2 separate regions of the Homo sapiens genome follow, and region 1 is linked to region 2. Evidence: fine-mapped expression QTL. A gene starts in region 2. The other region holds a variant in brackets. All regions are shown on one strand. Distances are from middle to middle. Region 1 overlaps PPP2R2B (protein phosphatase 2 regulatory subunit Bbeta). Region 2 holds the start of PPP2R2B (protein phosphatase 2 regulatory subunit Bbeta).

Evidence for each region.
Region 1: its variant is fine-mapped to the expression of PPP2R2B in blood mononuclear cells (TOPMed, PIP above 0.99).

Annotation. Positions count from the first base shown.
Region 1 is chr5:146,821,852-146,824,760 of GRCh38, forward strand. The region is part of intron 2 of PPP2R2B (protein phosphatase 2 regulatory subunit Bbeta); the gene reads right to left. Among named protein-coding and RNA genes, the nearest start is that of PPP2R2B, 55 kb to the right of the region's middle. The variant GC/G (reference allele first, on the strand shown) is at 1,386.
Region 2 is chr5:146,877,461-146,880,369 of GRCh38, forward strand. It overlaps PPP2R2B (protein phosphatase 2 regulatory subunit Bbeta), which reads right to left and starts at 1,297. Exons shown (of 10, transcript NM_181675.4): 1 at 1,131-1,297; 2 at 542-735. The coding sequence starts at 611.

The DNA of each region.
Region 1 (2,909 bases), 56 kb before region 2:
TATGATGCCACATTGTAAATTCCCATTTATGCAAAGTAAGCAAAGGAACTACTAATATTCATATTCACATTTTACCAATGGCAAAATACACACTGACAACGTAAGTAACTGTGTTCAGAACACACAGTGAATCCGTGGCCCAAGTAAGACTAGAACTCAGCCTTTGAGTGTTATTTCCGTGTAAAACATTGTCTCACATTTCAAAAATGAGTCCATCTAAAAATGATATAGCTGTCCAATCCTTTGTACTATGCTGTGTAGTTTTCCTAAATATGCTTATTTTACAAGAAAAGAAAGTTCGTAAAATAACAAATTGGTAAGATGCCAGAAGAAGGACTGGCTCCTCAATTTAGAGCAGAGCCTTGCAAATGAGGATGAACATTTGAAAGAGCGATCTTCTGGAAAGCATAACTCAGATTACATCATTTTCTTGCTTCTAAGCCCTCCAGTGACTTCTCCTTGCTCTCCAAATAAAATCACCCATCTTTTCATGGCCTCCAAGCCTCCATATGGTCTGGATCCTGCCTAACTCTCATACCACTGTTGTCTGTTTCAGTCATCATACTCAGGTTGCACTGGTCTTCTGTTTCTCATACTCTCCACATTCATTACTGCTCCAGGGCCTTTGCATTTACTATTTTCTCTCCAGGAAGTCCTCATTCCCTAAATTTTCTTCATTTTTGGTTTTTTTTTTTTTTTTGCTTTTTAGGTTGTCCTGTCAAGAATACTTCTCCATCTAATATATTTGTTTACCACCCACTCTCTATATCCTTAACTTGTCCTAATCTCTCCATACCATTTATCAACATATAAAATTCTCATTTGCTTTGTGGGTTCTTCCTCCCACAGATTATTATTAGAAAAGAGAGAAATCTTGATCTTGCTCACTTCTTTATGACCAACACATGAAACAGTGATTGATACATAGTAGATATTCAGTAAACATTTGCTAAATGAAGAAATAAGCTTCTTTTATCACCACTAAAGCACCAAGATAAGTCTTTCCGTGCCTTTGTCATCTAGATTTATATAACCTCCTTAAAACTAAAAGCAATGCAGTCCCCAAATTTAGAACTTGTAGGAAGAAGTGAGCAAATTGCAAACATCATTCTTACATCCTTGAGAAAAAAAGACTTTTGTTTTTCTTTATATTTAAGGAAAGCTGAGTCTTTTGGCAAAAGGGACTGTTTGGAGACACTCCCTCCATGTGAACCAAAAGGTTACACATGCTTCTTCTCCAGTTTGGAGCTCAGCCCCCTGTTCTGGTTTCAATCTGGAGATTTCATCTGACAGCCTGCATATCACTACCTATGGTGGACTTGCTCTGTGGCCAGAGTTTACTTCTTCTTCTTCTTCTTTTTTTTGAGATGGAGTCTTGCTCTGTC[GC/G]CCAGGCTGGAGTGCAGTGGCATGATCTCGACTCACTGCAACCTCCACCTCCCAGGTTCACTCCATTCTCCTGCCTCAGCCTCCTGAGTAGCTGGGACTACAGGCGCCCACCACAAGGCCCGCCTAATTTTTTTTATTTTTGATAGAGACGGGGTTTCACCATGTTAGCCAGGATGGTCTTGATCTCCTGACCTCGTGATCTGCCCTCCTCGGCCTCTCAAATTGCTGGGATTACAGGCGTGAGCCACTGCACCTGGCCCAGAGTTTACTTAGACGGCACACCACATAACGAGCAGAACGTGCACTGAGATGGGAAGAACAGATTTTCCAAGTAGTTTAATTTCGAGAATTAACTTAAAAATTATCTGGTAACCTCATTCCTAATGTCATAGTGCCACGTCCACTTTAAAGTTTAAAATCTTGGAAATGGATTCAATCATCCATGACAAACATATGTTGTTCTTCTCAAGCAGAAGTATAAAATAATTCTTCTCCCTAACTTTCTGAATTTTCCTTTTAATAACTTGAAAAAATAACAGCCCTTAGTAGCCCACCTGTGTGTTAACAGTGATTTTTGCAAAACATAGCCAAACAGAAGTCCCTGTTTGCCTCATTTCAAGTTAATTTGAAAAAGAAAAGTTGGCTCAACCAAACTTATGCTGTAATGGTCCTTGCTTACAAGTCAGCAAGTACCATCTGAAAGCTTAGGGGTAGCACTCCATTTCCCTCCTGGATCCCTGGTAGTAGATGTGCATGCAAAGTGAATGCAGGTACAAACACCAAGTGCTCTCCCAACAGGTTTCCACTGTCATCTTCTTCACTTATAAGCAGCTAAGCCACAAATTCCCCTCTATCAGATGTCACAGGAAGCTACACAAAGTAGGATTTGAAATGTATATATGTAATTATGTCAAATCTGATGGCAACATAATTTACTGAAGAGCAGAAAGCTTATTGAACATGAGGCTATTTCTATTCCAAAAGCCTAGAACATAGAGTCAGTCTCATCCTCCCAACCCAGCCTTAAAAATCAGATGGAGATTCATGACATGGAAAGAATCACAGGGAAGATGTTCACATTGGTAGTGAGTTTGCCTCAATTTGTGTTCCTCATGACCATCTCTAGTTTTCAGGCCAATAAGGGCAGATACTGCTGGTAGAGCAGCCATGTTATATGATTTCCAATTTGTGAGTTAGCTCTTTGGCTCCCTAGGGTACCTTCAATAGCTATAGAATTAGCATCTATTGCTTTTCATTTGGTTCTTATCATCACAGAAGAGGGTTGGCCATACATAGAATAGTTGAGTTTTGGGGGAAAGCATTGGGTAAGAGGAAGGGAGTATGCACTAGAAAAAGTAGACTCATGACACACACTGTGGTAGAGTGGTAATTTTTGAAACGGGCTTTAACAGAGATAGAAAGAAAACTGTATGAAAACTCTTCATAATAATTAATTAAGCCTCTCTTAGTCCTAAATTGAGAAAAATGCAAGAATCAATACTTTTTTTTTTTTTTTTGAGATG
Region 2 (2,909 bases):
CTAATGCACTTCCAAAAGGAAAGAGGTTCGCCCGTCTGCAAAGGGCTTTTTGGGGTTTTGATTGTCTAAGCAGGTAACCTGGCCGGCCGGGGAGATGAATGGGCAGGAAATGAAACCTTGCCCTCCCTGCAGCCACTGAGAGACATAACATCGTTTCGCTCAGGGAGGGGGGACCAAGGTCCTACTGGGCCCCTCCCTTCTTATCTCCCCCCAAGACCCCTGCGAACATCTCGGGGAAGGGGTCATCTGCCTTCCTGGGGTCATCTTTCTGGGCGAGAGCCCCACCCTGAAAAAGCCTAATCCCTGAGGGCCATTTTAACTCCCGTGGGCGCCGGGTCCACCTGCTGCTGAACGCCGAGCTCGCCTCGCGGAGCCCGGATGGATGCGAGGTGCACTGGGGCTGCCGGGGCCAGCCGAGCCCCCGCCCCAGCCCTAGGGCCCGGAGGAGTCTCCGCCACTACGCGCCCAGCTGCCCAGGAAGCACAGTGATCCGCAACTTGCGCCCGGCCCCAACGGCGGAATGCGGCGGGGCTGGCGTTACCTTCGGTCGCATAGCTGTGGTCGCGCAGGAAACTGTTGTTGATTTTGCGGGTATCAATGTCCTCCTCCATTGACAGCAGGCTTACTTGCGTGGGAACCAGAAGCCGGCAGACAAGTATCCATGATCCCTCCCCGCAGCCAGTCTCACAGGAGAGGGGGGCAGGGGAGCCAGTGGGACTGCACCATGGTCCGAGCCTGAGGAGGAGACGGGGAGGCGGAGAGAAAAAAAATAAAAACCCGGCAATGGAGCTGTCACCTCCTCCACTCGGGTTCTGCGAGGCTGCGGCGGCTCCTCCCGCGCGGTGCGCTCACTCCAGCTCCAGTTCCCAGCGAGGATGCTGCGCCTGCCTCCGCTGCCTCCGGGTGCCAAGATACGCCGTGCCCCGAGGGGTCTGGTCCCGCCCGCCCGCCCCGGAGGCGCTCACAAGCGGGTCTGGGGAGATGCCCAACAGGTTCCCCTCCTTGGCAGCCGCTCCAAAATGCAAAAAAGATCCCTCCTCCCCCTGGGAGAGCGGGCAGCCGCGACAAAATGGTGCCTTTCTGGACCCGAGCTGCAGTGGCGAGATGGCAGGGACAGGATTCAGGCTTGCCTGGCCGGAATGAGGGTGCTGGTCCCACGGGAGGGCGGCTCCGGCAGGCGGGGGTAGGGAAGCTGGCGGGGAGCTGGGCAGGGCGCTGCAGCCGGCGCCAGCGCACTCACCCTCACACCCACACGCGCGCACTCGCAGCTGCTGCTGCTGCTGCTGCTGCTGCTGCTGCAGGAGGCTGGAGGCGGCTGGTGCATTAAAGGCGAGGCTCCTCCCAACCGCGTCAGCAGCCCCACGACTCTTTCCCAGCAGCAGTGGTGGCCGAGGCAGAGGCTGCGGCTGCTCTTTGCTGCAGTGGGGCGCATGCAGCCGCGAATCGGCACCTGGGCAGCAAGCGACTAGCTTGCAGGTTCAGGTGGAACGCATAGACGCGCTCTTCCAACCTCCTCCCCTCTCGCGCCACTCAGCTAAGGGCCACGTCTACGCTAGCACCCAGAGCCCCTAGCTCCCTGCCTTTCTCCGGACGCCTGAACTTGAGAACAGCAAAGAGAAGTAGGTTCCTTTGGATAGTCAGGAAGTCTACATCCAGGTCCCTTTTCCTCACCCTTATATGATGCATGTGGTCCCTTGGTGAATTTAAAGGGCGAGGTTTGGGGCTCGAAGCTTCAGAAAAAGAGGAGAAAGTGGGAAGTGCCGCTCAGAGCCTATCTTAAGCCCTCTAGTAGGAATAGGAGGGGGATCAGGGGCCAGAACTTTGCAACTGGTTCCCCCATTCCTAAGAGTCAAAATACCTTCTAACTGTAGGAGGCTGGTGTTCAATAAAGCATCTGTGTCTACACAGGTGGAGGAAAGCACCAGACTAGTAAACAGGATCAGTCTGAAAAAGTCCACTCTCCCTTGCAGTTTGCACTTCGTTTTGGACAAATTATTGCAGCCTCTCCGTTAGGTTTTGCTTGTGCAGGAACACCTTCTATTTGCTGTCAGCATGGAAGGTACATTGAAGCACAGAAACATAAGCATAAGAGCCCTGTGCCCACAGAGAGCCACTGCTACCCTGGGGGAATTTCAGGAGTCCAATTAATACAGAAAAGAGACCTGTCTTCCTACTTCAACTAGGAAGAAAATGTAGAATTCCCTCCCCACCCATGTTTTCCCAAATTTCAAACTCTACTTTTGAAAGAAAATGAGATTACTATTGTTATGAAACAACCAAAAACATTTAATGAAGCAACCCAAATCACTAGAAAGCCAATTTGGAAAAGACATCAACCCCAATCAGTAGAAAGCCAATTGGAAACGACATTTCCTAGGTTTCATCTTGTAGAAGGTATTCATTTCAATGGGTACCACTGTAGGGAGAGACATCAGCAAATGTTTTGCTCAGTTAAGCTCCACAAGTTTAGCTAGATGGGCCCAGAGGGACCTATGAGTTAATTATATACATACAATGCTTCGGCTAACACAATTTAGAAAGTATTTGAAGTTCAGAAAAATGGAAAAACAAGTCCTTAACTGAGGTTGGGAATTGTCATTAGATTTCCATGCAGTATGGATACTTCTGGTAGATAGAAAATGACATCTTCCTCATCTCCAGAAATTGACTGCATATCCCTGGGAGAAAAGAGCAGAAATGTTCCTTGACATAGTTATTTTGTGTGTGTGTGTGTGTGTGTGTGTGTGTGTGTGTGTGTGTGTGTGGTGGGGGGAGTTCAGTTCAACTTTCAATAGATTCTATTTTATTTTCATCTAGTGCTTAAGACTTATACACTTGTTTGTTCAAAATCCACATTTAAAATTTTAGTAACAGGTGAAGACGGGTACAAGTTGATTTAATCCACTTCA